Regions from separate parts of the Homo sapiens genome. Here region 1 is linked to region 2. A link means that fine-mapping ties the variant in region 2 to the expression of a gene that starts in the linked region. Tissue or cell type: stomach. Region 2 holds a variant in brackets; the other region holds the start of a gene. All regions are shown on one strand. Distances are between the middles of the regions.

Region 1 (8,086 bases), 690 kb after region 2:
AGCCACAATCCAACCCAGCACATAGGGATTTGTGCAGTTTTAAGCTCCAGAGAGCTGTTTCGTGGTATCTATGCCAACACGTACTGCAGATAAAGCACAAACCCAAATTGCCCCACTAGGTCAGGAAGCAGAGTTGGTGATATAAGCACCTAGGAGGTGGGGCAGCAAGACAGACAGAAAAGGTCAAGAAACCCATTAGCTAGAACTCCTTCCTTAGCCCTTCATCCTTCCCTGCTCAGCAGGGGAAGGTCTTGCCTGTCTTTTTGGTGATGATGAAAAGGGACACGCTTCAGAAATCCCAAATGTTACCTTTGAATGTAGGCGCCCCGGTGATGCCTATCTTTCCTCCTTACCTTTGATATCTTTTTTCATAATACTTTATTTAATGCTGAACGTGTTACACAACGTATCAGCCCTCCAAGTTGTGCAATCCAGAAGGGCGACAGCACAGAGTAGAAAAACTGGTCTAACTTCAGTGAGACACAGATTACACAACATGATGAACAAAAGACCAGAAACAAATACACAAATATTCCCTTGGATTATGTAACTAATAAGTGGAAAACATATTTGATGGGAAAATTAAAAAAAAAAAAAAGTTTCAAGCTTATGCCCTGATCCTTCCTTCTTGGTTATGCAGTAAACATAAAAGTTTTCAGTAGTCTTTTCCCTCCTTTACACTCATGCTGCATTTCAAATTGATACTCTACACAGTGATGAGTAGAACCTTTCTTTCTTTATTACCTTTCATTACATGAAAGTGTTGTTAAGACTTCAAAACTGTATCACTTCACTCTTAATAAAACCACTTTTCAACATATTCAATGAGTTTGACTATAATTTCACTTCCTTCAGTAAGACATGACAACTATCAGTAAGCAAGAATTACACTCTCACCTTCCTGTTTTTTTGTGTGTTTAGGGAGGGGTTGAAATGGTTAAGGGCTAGCCTGAGTTGGCACTAACATTGCTCTCACAGGAACTTTCAGAGGCAGTGGAATGGGATGTATGAACTTGGAGCAGGTAGACCTGGATTCTAATTCTGGCTCTGTAGCTAACTTGGCCATCAGTTTAACCCTTTTGTGCCTCAGTTTTCTTCTCTATAAAATGGGACACAACTATCCTATGAAGCAAGTAAGGATGAGCACGCCGCACAGTGGTGAACACAGCTTTCAGTGGAAAGCCCTGAGACGTTAAACACCCTTGGCTTCAAATCCCAGTCCTGTCCCTTACAGTTAGACCTTGGGTTTGTCACTTTAAAATGCTGCTTCCCTCTCAGAGTCATAACCCATGCTTTCACACCTGTGCTGAGTATGAAATGAGAGGCCATCTGTCAAGTGTCACCAGAGGTGGCTGCTCCCTGCATGATGTGCCTTACAGGTAACTGTCACTCAGACATCTGCAGCATGAATGGCCCTGTAGATCACAGATTTGAACGAATTAGTCACTATCTCTGAACACAGGTGCATGAGGCAGACTGCTTCTAAAGAACTTTAAAAGGGATTTATGGCCCACAGGACTCCGGGGCTGTAATAACTTCGGGTACATTAGGCATAGCTGAATCTATGCACTCTTGGGAGCGCTGACCATTCAGGGGGTTGGGGGAGATGACAATCTGGCCAACAGCTAGTGGCTAAAGCAGAAGCACCAACTCCCCACTTTTTGTTGATACATTTAGAACCCAGTCTTGCTCCAAAAAAGGGGTACCTGGGCTTAGTAAGAACCAGCCGCTCAGTGCTAGCAACGGTGGAACCCTATATAGTGACCTCTGCTTTATTTCAAATCTGCGAGCCACAGGCAGTGGCCCCTCTGCACAGTACCTGAAAGGCCTGCTTTCAGGTCGAAGCGCCTTCTTGAGCAAGACCTGCACCTCAGCTGGCGACGAAAGGGGGACAGGGACACGACGGCGCCAACATTCCAGGGCGGCCACACCGCAAGCCTGCGGTCGCGTTCCGCGGGGAGATGAGCCTTCGCTCGCCACGGAGACCCCTGGCCCTATGGCCGGCAGCTGCTGCGCTGCGACCCCAGCCTCAATATCATAGCATCCCCGCCCTCATCGCGTTTCGCAGAAAATAAAAATGCCTCGCCCTGCTAGTCAGCAATGGGAGAGTCACTGATCCCCAAGTTAGCGGTGGGAGTGGGGAAGTGTGGCCCCGGGCCCTGCTGGAGCCTAAAGACACGCGATTACAGAGGAGGACGAGCCAAACCGAGTCCAGATCGAGAGACCGGCGCCCAGATCTCGGCGCGGTTGGGCAACACTCAGCACCAGTCCGCAGAAAAGTCTAAGGCAGAGGAGAGCAAAGGGAGCCAACGCGGGCGCAAATGATCCAGGTGCAGCCGAGGCAGCGCCGCCGCCCCGGGCCTCGGTGTCCCGTTCTGCAAAGTGAGGACGAAGGATCGAAGTGTCTCCCCGACCCTGCTAGGGCTCTACAGGGAACCAGGCTAAAGCTGCCTGAGGCTCGGAGACCGGAAAAAGAGGGAAAGACAACAGGGAAGAGAAAGGGAGGAGTGGGTGGGAGACCCTGAGGAAAGACGGCGAGGACAGGGTTGGAGGGTTTTCCGCCTTCCTCCTCTTCCTCCTACACCTGAGTTCTCACCGCTGGGCCAAGGCCCAGAGCCCACGGAGCTTAGGCACCAGTAGCCAAGCTTCTCCCTCCTCGCGCCAGTTTCTGCGAGGCACGGGGCAGACGGTGGGCAGCACAATCATGCATGCCAGGGGTGCAAGGGGGAGAGGTCCGGCTGGAGTCCGAGGGCAGGTGAGCCGGCCTGGGGCTGGGCAGGGGTGAGATAGCCCCAAGCGGGGAATCGCAGGGCGCCTGCGGCCCAGCCCGCGAGCCCCGGACGGGCCAAATTTTATTCCCCAACTTTGAGCAAGGGGAGGGGGTGTATGCAAAAAAAAAAAAAAAGGAAAAAAAAGTTGCTGAACTTTTCCCCCAACTCTGCCGTAGAGGCGGGAGTGGAGGGCGGTGCCTGCACCGATTCGCCGGCGGCTACGGTCGGGAGGCTCGGATTGGCGCTCGGGGGCCGGGGCCGGGGCGAGCGGGCGTGGGGGAGGGGAGCGGCCCTCCCCGCCCGCGGTATCGGCTCGCGCCGGGAGCGGGTTAATTTCAAATCGGGGGCTTGGCTGCTCCTGGACGGTCACGCTCCCTCTGCCCGCCAGCCGGCCCGCCAGTCCCGGTCCCGGCGTCTCTCTCCGGCACCCACCTCGGCGCTGCGGAAAGACTGACTGCCAGGTACGCGGGCTCCCGGGCCTGAGAGGGGCAGCGGTGCTGACGAGTCCCGGCTCAGCCCCCGCCGGCTCCCGCCGTGAGGTGGACTGACAGGTCAGCGGGACGCAGAGGGGCGCGGCGCCCGGGCGACACGGCACCGGGAGAGGGCTCGGGAGGGTGGCGGCGGCGGCGGCGGCGGCCGTTTCCCGCCTCCCGCTTCGCCGGGGGCCGTGAGGGAGGAGCTGAGCTCCCGCGCAGAGGGGCGGGGGCGAACGAGGGGGAGGGGCGGGGTTGCCGTGGTTCCGGGCGCGGGTTTGCCCGCGCTCAGGCCCCGCGCAGCTAAGGGGAGGCGCCGGCCACGGTCCGACTTTCCGCGCCAAATTTTTAAATCGAAGGCGGAAGGTCCGGCCCCGCCCCTGGCGCCGTCGGCCAATCGCAGGCCCGCTTCCGGCCCTCTGATTGGTCGGGAATTGTTGTCCTGGAAACCACGATGATGCTGTCCGGGAACTGTCGGGACTGCGGCGGGCGGACAGGGCCTGGGGGAGGGGCCTTTGGCCGAAAGTTGGGGGAAGTGCACTGAGCGAGTGGCGGCCGGGGGACAGTACCTGCTTGCCTTATTGGGCAAATACAGCCTTCCAAGGTGGAGTCTAACGCCGTGGTGTGAACTGGCCACCCGAACAGGGAGTAAATAGTGCTTTGTATCTTTAAGGAAGCCCTTTTTTAAATTTAAAAAAAAAGTCTTAATTATAAGACTCTTTAAATGCCCAACTGCATACTTGGAGCTTTGGGACTGAATTTGGAACTTTCCTGTCAAGCGACCTCCCACGACTTTACTGCTGAGCCTGTGCACGTGTGTGTAAGGGGAGAAATCCAGGCATCTAGATGCAGACTTGTACCCAGTTACTTGGGGTCGCGTGCGCTCAGCTGGGACCTGGGCTCGTGCGCTTAGTCCGGAGCCCTGATCTGCGAACAGGTGGGTGCTTCCTAAAGTATTCGCTGGGGTCCGGAGAATGGCTCGCCTTTTCTACAGATGGGAGAGGGCTGTCACTAGAAATTCCGTGGGTTGCTTGAAGTCTTAGGACCGCCGATCCGTTTGCTGAAGGAATTTACTGGCATTTGTTGGCGTTCTCCGCTCAGTGGGGCGATCTCTGGTCGAGAATAAAATGTAAATCTAGTTTGTCATTTTTCGTTAGGCTTTGTTTCCGTAGCCTCTTGTCCGTGAAGGAATTTTCAACAGATCTTTTGGTTCTTGTTTTTCTCTAACTTTTTCTATTTCCTTTTTTCTTTAAGGATATTAAAACTTTTAGTACAATTGATTGGACTACTTGAACCATCGGGATTTGGGGAGGAACTCCAGATTTTTCATTTTTAAACTCTAAATGTATGAGGAATTTACAGAATGGAGAACGAAAAGGTACTTTATAACTTCAGTATTCATCATTGCAATTTTAAATTCAGTATCATCCTGATTTAACTCCATAATTTTTCCCTATCCAATGTGTTTTCTTAATGCCACAACCTTGGTTAGCCTCTGTAAAGACCTGGAAAAAATGAACCTTATCTTATAGTTTCAAAAATATATAGTTTAAAATATATACTAATTTAATTAATATAGTTTAAAAAATGAAAATTATCTTAAAAAGAAATTCAGTCTCCAATCATGTCAAATGCCCTTTCTGAATTCCAGTTGTTCAAGAATCCTCAGAAATGTTGTAATGAAACTAACAAATTTTATTATTCTTAAAAATACCTTTTCTCTCTTTATGTCTGAGACAGCTACCAAATCATTAAAAACTAGAAAGAGTGTAAAGGGGCAAACCTACCCCTCTTCAAAAATTCGTTAGTTTCATTACAACATTTCTGAGGATTCTTGAACAACTTGGAATTCAGAAAGGGCATTTGACATGTTTGGAGACTGAATTTCTTTTTAAGATAATTTTTTACCAAATTGGCAGCTTATTTATGGGGTCTGCAAAATGCTCTGTTTAGGGGGCAAACATTTTGTAAAATTACAAAAGAATTGTCTGTGGGGGGTGTCCAACTACTAATAGGTTTAAAAAAGTGAACTTACATGCATATTTCCTAATAGTTTTAGATGTTAGTCAAATAAGAGAATTACTATTGCTTCTGATAATCTGAGGCAAAGAAAAAGCCTATTGTCAGATCAGTACATCTCAGATGCACACACTGGCAAGGAGCTCCTGTTGGGTCCACCATACTGACTTCCATGTAAGAAGAGCACCATACTTGGAGTGAAAATATCTGTGTTCCACTCCTACGTGACCTCTCTCAGCCTGCATCTTCTCTTCTGCGAGCTAAGAATGCAGGATTCCATGAACATACAAACGGAAATGCACTTGATAAACCCAAGATGTCACAACATGTCCCATTTGTCCATGTTCTTAAAGTTATTTGGTCTGCCTATTATTTTACTTATTGCTGTTCCAAGCATTTTCTTTAAAATAGATAAAGATGGGAGTAGTGTGTGAAGTCCCTGGTGTCCAAAACTGGAAGGAACATAGTCTCCATTAGCCTTATTTATGAACTGCTGTTAATTTACCCTTTTGTCTCAGTGGCTATCCTGCTTCTGCCAGGATCTAGCTTTGTGGTCTTAGGTAGCTGTTAGGTTGATGCAAACATAATTGCTGTTTTTGCCATTACTTTCAGTAGCAAAAGCCACAATTACTTTTGCACCAACCTAATCATTTTACTTCTCTGGGCCCCATTTTCTCTATCTGTAAAATGAGGGAGTGGATGTTCAAAGAGCAGACTTTTCTGGTCAGAAATCCTGCTGTTGGACACTCTAGATTTCCCTGATAAATCTGACCATATGCTATCCCTCACTCTTGTCTCCTTGTCTCTCTGACTCTTCAGTGGTATTTTATTTAGCACCCACTGCATGCAGCCATTATGCTAGGTGGATAAGAATTTCTGCCCTGTAGGCCTTTACTTATTACAGTGCCATGAGTAAACAAAAGTCATTTCTAGAAGTTTGATCATTTAACATTGTCAGTCCAATTAGGGGAAGCTGAGTGAAGGGCATTTGGGAACTCTATACTGTCTTTGCTTCTCTTCTCTAAATCTAAAACTATTTCAAAATACAATTAAAATTATAAGTCCTAACTAAAGTTGTTTTTTCAGTGGTTGAAACATAAGGTGAAAACATTTATGGCTTATTGCAAAATTAAAAATGGGAAATGTAATTATTAGAATTGACAATACACATCACATGACCATTAGAATACAGTTATTAATTTCCTCAACTCTACAATCTCATTAGACATTTTTTCCTTGGCATGATTCTATTCGTTATGCAATTTCTAGAATCCAAGCTGTCTGATAAATCCTGTTTTACCATGGATTTAATTATTTACATTTTTTAAACCAGGAAAATCTCTTTTGTGAGCCACATAAAAGGGGACTAATGAAAACACCTCTGAAAGAATCCACCACAGCAAATATCGTGTTGGCAGAGATCCAGCCTGACTTTGGCCCTTTAACCACACCTACCAAGCCCAAGGAAGGCTCTCAGGGAGAGCCGTGGACACCGACAGCCAACCTGAAAATGCTCATCAGTGCTGTGAGCCCTGAGATCCGCAACAGAGATCAGAAAAGGGGTTTGTTTGACAACAGAAGTGGATTACCTGAGGCCAAAGACTGTATACACGTAGGTTTTCAGAGGACTGGTTGGAGGCTGGGGAATTTGTTGGGGGGAGGGGGGAGGTTGTAGCTATTAGAGAAGTGCCAGCAATTTAAAGCATCACCACCCGAAGGCTGTTATTAACTTCCTTCGGAGCACCAGAAAGGTTTGGACCCCAAGAAATATAGCTCTGGGAATTCTGAACCTTTGCGTTATTTTCGTTTCAGGCTTTCCTTTCAGGTTTGCCAAGCATTTTGTACTGGCCCCCCTAACCTTTTCTCCCATCCAGACTTTGCAGCTGTTGAAGCTAAGCGTGTGTAAGTTGGTGTCAGTCATCGAGCACAGATGCCCCTAATAAATCTGTCAGACTTTATTTTAGAATAAGACATTGTTTACCTTTTCCTTTGTAGGAACACTTATCTGGAGATGAATTTGAGAAATCCCAACCAAGTCGAAAAGAGAAAAGTTTAGGATTATTGTGTCATAAGTTCTTAGCACGATATCCTAATTATCCCAACCCTGCTGTGAATAATGACATCTGCCTTGACGAAGTGGCAGAGGAACTTAGTAAGTATGCAAAGAACTCACTGAAAGAATTAATAATTAAAGTGGCTTTATGGACTTAACTCCTTCAGACCCCCGCTCATCTAGCCAGTGTTTGTAAATGACACAAATAAGCCGGCATGGAAATTTTCTATCTCTAAAGCCCTCTTCTAATATAAGAATGAAGGTAAGTAGTTGCAAATTTCAGCAAATCTTGGAGGCAGAAAAGTCACAATGGAGGTTGCTTCTGACTACAGTTGTCTCTGAAGCTTTAAAGAAAGGCAATATTGTCTCATGACTTGTTTCACAAAGTTACAACTGTGAACTTTTGCTTCATTGCTCTCCCTTGCTGTTCTTGAAGAATCAGGCTGATAAATGGTTATCTTCCTAGTTGACGCTGAGGATCAGCTTCTGTGAGTGGGAACAGGACCTGTGCACTCCTGGACCTTCAGCACTATTCTGAGGACTAGTTTTCTGAATGTTTTGTGTTGGGCACAAGTTATTCCTCCTGCCCCTTTTTACTCTGTTCAAAGACCTGAATCTATTTGGAGCTAAAAAGGGGCCCGTGGTGAATTTGGGGTACCTTTGGAGTCATGTGGGTATCTTAATTTAAACCTGTGAAGTGATGTGCTGTGCAAGATAATACATTTTAATACAAAGCAATCACCCCGTGAAGAAAAGTTGCCCTTCTAATA
Region 2 (8,097 bases):
GACCAGGGAGGGTCAGCCATGGCCACACAACCAATCACTCCCAACCCAAATGCCGTATAGCTCCATTGCCCACTTTGTGGATTATCTGTGGTTAGGTTTTAATTTCTGGCTTGACTTCCTCCTGCTTTCCATACTGCACAGTTCACATCCCCCCAACCCCATCACATTTTGGTGGCATGTGCCACGTGAAAGCATGCAGGTCTTAACAAATCTTAACAGACACCTGCACCGTTAATACAGCCAGTGCAGGAGAGAGTAGGAAATACCTACCGTTTTCAATTATTCATCCCATAGCCTGTTTCCCAATTATGGGAAAGAATCAAGAATTATCCAACTTTAAGCAAACAATGTATCAGAGACATTAAAATACAACAATTACAAAAATAGAAAAGAAGGAGAAACCATGTAGAATCTTTAAAAAAGAATAATTACACACAAAAGTTGTTAAAGCCTATTAAAGCATGTAAGTTTTTCCTATGCTGGCACTTTTTAAAAGTTGCAAATGGCTGGGTGCAGTGGCTCACACCTGTAATCCCAGTACTTTGGGAGGCCGAGGCGGGCAGATCACCTGAGGTCAGGAATTCAAGACCAGCCTGGCCAACATGGTGAAACCCAGTCTCTACTAAAAATACAAAAATTAGCTGGGTGTGGTGGCACATGCCTGTAATCCCAGCTACTTGGGAGGCTGAGGCAGGAGAAGTAGAGGTTGCAGTGAGCTGAGATCATGCCATTGTACTCCAGCCTGGGAAAAAGAGTGAGACTCTGTCTCAGAAAAAAACCAAACAAACCAAAAAACCAAAACACGTTGCAAACATGGTTCAGGTTGGACTTAAAAACAGCTTTTTTTTTTTCCTTTTCTTTCTTTTTTTTTTTTTTTTTTTTTTTTGCTTAAGAGTGTAATCTATGCAATGGGTTCACTGTGGGCCAGAAAACACACAGGTTATCTGAAAGTCAAGGCTTCCCCTTGGCGCTCAGTGAGTATTTCCCTGGCCAGACTCTTTTCTCAGAAAAGCCTCAAAATACTTCCAAACTAGAGCCAGAATTGTTCTAGTGAGGGCAGGCTCCAAACTAACAGCTAGTCACCAAGGTGGCCAATGTGACAGAAATGGAAACTGCAGCACCCTGCTTCAGTCAGTGCCCCGGATGATGCAGCCTATCTCTCAAGGAAGGACAGCTGTTGGAGAGAAAGTGCCAGGCAAAGCACGTCTCCACTGGGCCCCGTGCCCGCACCCACCCACACCCCATGCCCAGTGTGCACGGCAGACAGGATACACCCCTTCAGCCCCCCAAAAAGCACCTCTGCATCTGCAAACTCACAATGACATGACTTACCTAGCAGCAGCCACTTTCTCCTGCAATGATTCCCTAGGAAAAATCCTCCAACCGGAGAGGCTGCCCTTCCAATTGTCACAAGTGTTTTCGGTTAAACTGCTCATGTTTCTAATTAACTTTTGTCATCCACAACTACTCCAGTGCCCAGAAGCCTGGCGGGATTAACGGCTGCTTCTTCTGCTTTTTTTTTTTTTTAAATACCTATGTTCCACTGCCTTCTAGCAACAGAGTAAACTGTATATAGAGCGGCTTTTTATGATTTAAAAGTCAACGGCTGCTGAAGCCGAGTGAAGGCAGCCCCTGTGTGGGGCGTGAGCACCGTGCCGTGAGAGCTCACAGTAAAGGAACTGCCTCCTTTCACTCTCAGCTGCTCGGGGAAGCCACAGCTCCAGGGTGATCCAAAGCAGACCTCCCAATGTTTTAAAACACATATATCTTCCTGACTTACTGGGGATTTGGGTTTGGAGGGAGGGTGCCTCACAATCCTCCCTAACAAAACTCAAGGGGTGTTGTTGGATGTTTTCCTGGGGAGACTGGCTTGGAATCAGGCTCCGAGAACCCACCCACACTGCTGGCCTGTTAGAGGGTTGCTACAGGCTTGACGCTGCCCATCAGCGGCCTGCTTGGTGTCAGGAGGCTCAGTGCTCAGCACATTGTGAAAAGGAGTTCCTGCCCCTATTTTAAGAGTGAGGAAACTGAGACTTAGGTAGGGCTAAAGAATAATCCTAAATTACACAGCCAGAAATGCAGATATCTGGGATTTGAACTCAGGTCTCCTGACATGGTGTCATAGCTACCTCCTTCGATGAAGAATGCATGTAAACAGCCACTTAAACAACAAGAGCACTTTTAGGAACTGCGCATTCTACTAGCTTATGTATGTTCATGACATCCATGGTGGAGTACAAACCAACCCTGCCATTTGAAATACAGCAGCCTACATCACAGAGGATGGCTCTCTGGCTGAAATAATAGTGAACCCACCAATCCTGAGTACCACTCCTCCTAGGAAAACTGCCTTTCCCTTTACCTGAACTTAGATCTGGGGCAGATGTAAAGTTTTCATTCATTCATTCAGTATATTCATTCATATGTATCTATTCATTCTTTGAGCTCCTAATATGTGTCAGATACTGTTTTAGGTACTTGGGATCCATCGATGAAAAAACAGATAGAAATCTCTGCCTTCATGGAGTTCACATTTTAGCAAGAAGGAACAGATAATAAATTTAATTAAATAAACTATATTATTTGTTAAAAAATAGTGCTAAAGAAAAGGACGGGGGTCTTAGGGGCAGGTTGCAACACTGTCCTTATAGGAACTACAAGATCACATTCAAAGGTATGTTCCTCTTTCCTAAAGAAGTTTTAGGCATAGTCCCCACGTGTACATGGATCAATGTGATCTTACCGCTTGGAACTACTCTGAGGCTTGCTCAGAAATGGATGTCTCCACTATAATTTCTATTTTTTTTAACACTAACAATCGCAGCTAGAAATTAACCAACTAAGTAGCTAATAACTGACCCAGAAGAAAACAGATACTTGGCTTGTCTTGGTGAAATGGCCATCTGAGACTCTCAGGCCTGGTTTATATCACATGACATTTTCCCCTACTGTTGTGCTTCACTAGGATTCCGTCCATACCTCTTCCATAGAATGATTTTGGAGGGGCAGCTACTTTATACAATGCTCTGGGAACACAGAGTTGAATAAAGCTCCCGCCCCCTAGAACTCACTGTCTCAGGGTGCAATGGACCTCAAAACAAACCATGAAAACAGTGTAAAAAGTGGTAGAGGGCTCTATGAGGTGCTATGAGAACTGGAGAATTAGTAGACTCTACTAATTCCCTCTGAAGAGTTTGGGAAAACTTCCTGGAGGAAGTGATCCTTGTGTTACCACGTGGTGCTTCTGCTATAGGTCAGTTATTCCCCTGGTCTGGGATTTCCTCCAGGACAGAGACTCCCCGCCCTGACTCATCTTTGTGTTCTAAAGCCTGCTGGAGCATAAAGATACTTATGAATTGCTGGTGGGTAATTTTGACATTTGCAAGTCATATTTAAGGTAACAGAGATGTAGGATTTGTGATGAGTCTTTAGGGTTTTATTAAAACTCTTAAGCCTAAACTCAGGAAAAAATTCAGATTAAAACTCAAAGAATCAGAATTTCTATGTAGTATTTAGTCTGGGCTCCCCTGGTTATTAAGTCATGGGGGCATTTCAAGGCTACTCATTACGACTATAAAAGGTAGCACCTGGGTATGATTCTGAATTTGGTTTCTAGAGCAGGAGTCTTGAGTGGTGCTAGATAGGGGGCACTAGGGCATCTGAGGACCAGGTCATCAACATTCTACACTCATGTCACAGCCAGAAGTCCCCTATGACATGAAGGGTATGTCAAGTCATGAGTGGTCTTGTACAAAGTAACTTGATACATTTCTATCATTCCTAGGATATCATACCAGTGATCTCAGAGCTTGGCTGAGTGGCTGTTTGGGGCCTGTTCCTCCCTTTGTCTGTTTCTTTTTTTCTTTTTTTGAGATGGAATCTCACTCTGTCACCCAGGCTGCAGTGCAGCGGCTCGATCTTGGCTCACTGCAACCTCCACTTCCCAGGCTGAAGTGATTCTCCAGCTTCAGCCTTACAGACGAGTACCACCAACACCTGGCTAATTTTTGTGTATGTGTGTGTGTTTTTTTGTAGAGATGGAGTTTCGCCATGTTGCCCAAGCTGGTCTCAAACTCCTGAGCTCAAGGGATCCAGCCACTTCAGCCTCCCAAAGTGCTGGGATTACAGGTGTGAGCCACCGCGCCTGGCCTTCTTTGTCCATTTCTAATCCTGGGGTCCTATGACTCCTAGCATGAAGCTTTCCTCAACAGGCTTCTCAGATAGTAAGTTAAACAAAGGGGAGGTGTGGGTGGGTAGGCTGGACCTTGAACTTTGTCCCCAACTCATGGCGTGATCCTAGATATGCCATTTTGCCTCTCTTGGCTTCAGTTGCCCCATTTGTTAGAAAGAGGATGAGCTATTTCTCTAGTGTCCTTTTAGCCTTGCTTCTATTCAAATCTGGGCAAGTCTCTGAGACGACCCCTGCAGCTGGGTGATTTCCAATCTTGATGGAGAAAACCGGCTGGGTCAAGGTATGGTCAACATTAGATGAGCTGCTTGTGAATTCAGAAATGCTAGTATCCTATGAAAACCAGTTTGGGGGAAGGTGGGTGGCGTGAGTTCTTCAAAATGAAAAGCACTTATTTCCCTGATAACTAACAACTCTTGTTATTTTCCTCAAATATCTGAACCTTTGTTAAAGCAAAGGAACCTAAGGGGGAAAAAGAAAAGCATAAAAGAATGTTTTGAACATCTGTATCCCCCAAATGATGATATGTGGGCCACTGAAGTGGATGAGATTGTGTTGGATGGCACATGAATATTTTTATATTTTAAAAGTCATATTTATTGCTTATTAGATATATTAGAAACATATTGGAAAATGATAACTAGCCATATATAAATTAACAGTTTCATGGATATTAAATGTAGATTTAAAATTTGAGCTAGTTTAAGGAAAATACAAATAAAAAACACAAGTGGCTCACAGATTTGGCAAAAATCACGCAGAAATTTTATGTAAGACTGAAGTGGGAGAAACACTGTTAC[A/G]TTAAATCAAGATATACTCATATTAAATGTGTTCTTTTGAAAAACGTAATCAACCAAATAGAAATCAAACCAGAAGGCTCAAATAAGGACTAGGTTCAAAACGAACCTGAAATGGTTAGTTTTTAGAGCTTTATTTATTTCTATATATTTGTGTAGTATGTGATATTTTGCCAGTTCTGGAAACATGATCAGGCCTTGTTGAGCCAAAGGTAATTTTAAAATAGTAGCTGTGACAATTTTTGACCACATAGTAAAAACACAGTAAGAATGATATATTGCCATCCAATAAACAGCCACTTCTCCACATGTTAAACTGAAAAATATCAAGATATACTCTTATTATGTATAATAAACTCTGATATATGCTACTCTAGTCTGTTCTAAAATGCTGATTGCAGAGCCCTTAAACAGGTTTTTTTTGTTTTGTTTTGTTTTGTTTTGTTTTAAAAGATGTAGTTTTGCTCTGTTGCCCAGGCTGGAGTGCACTGGTGCAATCTCGGCTCACTGCTGGAACCACAGGCACATACCACCACACCTGGCTATTTTATTTATTTTATTATTTTATTTTGAGACAGAGTTTCACTCTTGTTGCCCAGGCTGGAGTGCTCACTGCAACCTCCACCTCCCAGATGCAGGCAAGTCTGCTGCCTCAGCCTCCTGAGTAGCTGGGATTACAGGTTCCTGCCACCATGCCCGGCTAATTTTTGTATTCTTAGTAGAGATGGGGTTTCACCATGTTGGCCAGGCTGGTCTGGAACTCCTGACTTCAGGTGATCTTCCCACCTTGGCCTCCCAAAGTGCTGGGATTACAGGCGTGAGCCACTACGCCTGGCCCTTAAACAGGTCTTATGCCCCACTAGTGGGCTGTGCCTTGCAGTTGGAACACCTCAGTTCTAAAAGACCAGCTTACAAGGTTGGCCCACCACCAACTGACAAACCACTGTAAGAAGGAAAAGTTTCATTTGAAACACTGCAGACAGGATGGCTTTGAAGAAAAGGAATTTTTTTTCTCGGAGTTTAGAGAGAGTATTAATCCTCCGGTTGGGAGGGAAAAAGTTTGGTTTGGTTTTTCTGGCAACCAGCCTTAACCTTCCCTGACAGGAACCAAAATGCTTTCTAAATGAAAATACTGTTTAAAGCAGATAAATAAAGCATTTCTTCCTCTCTCCTTCAGTGAGGGCGGACACTGGCCCCAGGTCTCTCCTGTCCCCAGCTTTTCAGTTAGGGAGATGTTGGTGGTCTGGTCCTGATGCCAACAGGCACTCAGGGAGAGTGTCCTGTTGATCCCAGCTCCTGTCACTGCTACTGTGATTTTTAAATCTGCCCTGGGGAGGTTTCTGGCCTAAATCCTCTCCCAAGTCTTTGGAGAACAGGCCTGATAATTGGGTGTGGGAAAATGTCTGCAATTTCCTAAAATTTGTCAAGGTGTCAATCTTGAGTATTCAAATTGGTTAGTATAATTGAAACTAGTTTTTTTTGTTTTTTTTTTTTTCTTTAAGTGTATTGACTCCAGCCACATGAGCTAGAGACTGTTTTCAGAGTCATCCTGGTCAGTTCTTGACAACCTGGTAGCCACCAGACCACAGAAGGGCAGGTGAACCTGTCTCGATCCACTTAGAGGTTCTGCAAGGTTCTTGGAGCCTGGCTGGAGGAGCCTCCTCAGCAGCACTGCTGTGTCAATGTCTAATATTAAGGATATAGCTTAAACACAGTCTTCTCTCCAACTCCATCTTGGAGAGGATCCCTGGAGGTACAGAGAGAAGTAAAGAAGGTAAGCGGGGCACGAGGACAAACAAAGAATGGAGACAGGAGAGTGAGAGGGCATGGAGGGAGAGCGAGCTGGGCTTTGGATCCACATGCTTCAAGGAGCTTATTGTGTCTATAATTCCATATGCTTCTAGAAAGTCTAAGCTAGAATAAGGATGAGGATCTATACAATAAAATGGTTTTTTTATAATCAAATGTTTTTTAAAAGTTGTTTGGTTAATGCAATCCTTATCAAAATTCCAGTGACTTTCTTTTTTTTCCAGACATACAGAAATCTATCCTAAAATTCATTGGAATCTCAAGGGACCCCCAAAAATCAAAACAATCTTGAAAAAGAACAAAGTTGGAGGCCTCACACTTTCTGATTTCAAAACCCACTGCAAAGTTAAAGTAATTTTTTAAAAGTGTGGTACTATCATAAAGACAGACATATAGACCAGTGGACTAGACTAGATAGCTCAGAAATAAACCTTTGCACATATGGTCAAACAATTTTTGGTAAGAGTTCCACAACTATTCAATAGGGGAAAGAATGGTCTTTTCAATAAATGGTGGTGGAAAAACTGGATATTCTCATGGAAAAGAAAACTAAAGTTGGATTCTTTTTTTTTTTTTTTTTGAGACAGAATCTTACTCTGTTGCCCAGGCTGGAGTGTAGTGGCGCAATGTCAGCTCACTGCAACCTCCGCCTCCCGGGTTCAAGCAATTCTCTTGCCTCAGCCTCCTGAATAGTGGGATTATAGGCATGCACCACCACGCTCGGCTAATTTTTGTATTTTTAGTAGAGACAGGGTTTCACCACATTGGCCGGGTTGGTCTCGAACCCCTGACCTCGTGATCTACCCGCCTCAGTCTCCCAAAGTGCTGGGATTACAGGCGTAAGCCACCACACCCGGCCTGGATTCTTACCTTATATCATATGCAAAGATTAACTCAAAATGGATCTAAGATCTATACATAAAAGCTAAAACTATAAAACTCCTAAAGGAAAACATAGGGCAAAACCTCATGACTTTGGATTTGTCAATAATTTCTTGGATATGACACCAAAAGCACAGGGAACCAAAGAAAAAATAGTTGGATTCACGGAAATTAAAAACTTCTGTGCATCAAAGAACACTATCAGTAGAGTAAAAAGGCAACCTACAGAACCGGATGGAATATTTATAAATCGCATATCTGATAAGTGACCGATATCCAGAATATATAAAGAACTCTTCCAACTCAACAAAAACAACCGGATTTTAAAATGGGCAAAAAACTTGAATATTCTCAAAAGAAGATATGCAAATGGCCAATAAAAATATGGAAAGACATTAAACATCACTAATCATTAGAGAA

What was found. PIP is the estimated chance that this variant, and not a neighbour inherited with it, causes the effect.
Region 1: it holds the start of E2F8, and the variant in region 2 is fine-mapped to the expression of E2F8 in stomach (GTEx, PIP 0.98).

The regions. Positions count from the first base shown.
Region 1 is chr11:19,236,643-19,244,728 of GRCh38, reverse strand. It overlaps E2F8 (E2F transcription factor 8), which reads left to right and starts at 3,784. Exons shown (of 13, transcript NM_024680.4): 1 at 3,784-4,181; 2 at 4,499-4,622; 3 at 6,597-6,875; 4 at 7,259-7,415. The coding sequence starts at 4,608. The region is part of intron 1 of CSRP3-AS1 (CSRP3 and E2F8 antisense RNA 1); the gene reads right to left. RefSeq lists enhancers at 1,438-2,007, 2,008-2,579, 2,785-2,894 and a silencer at 3,015-3,714.
Region 2 is chr11:19,925,026-19,933,122 of GRCh38, reverse strand. The region is part of intron 6 of NAV2 (neuron navigator 2); the gene reads right to left. Among named protein-coding and RNA genes, the nearest start is that of NAV2-AS3, 52 kb to the left of the region's middle. The variant A/G (reference allele first, on the strand shown) is at 4,990.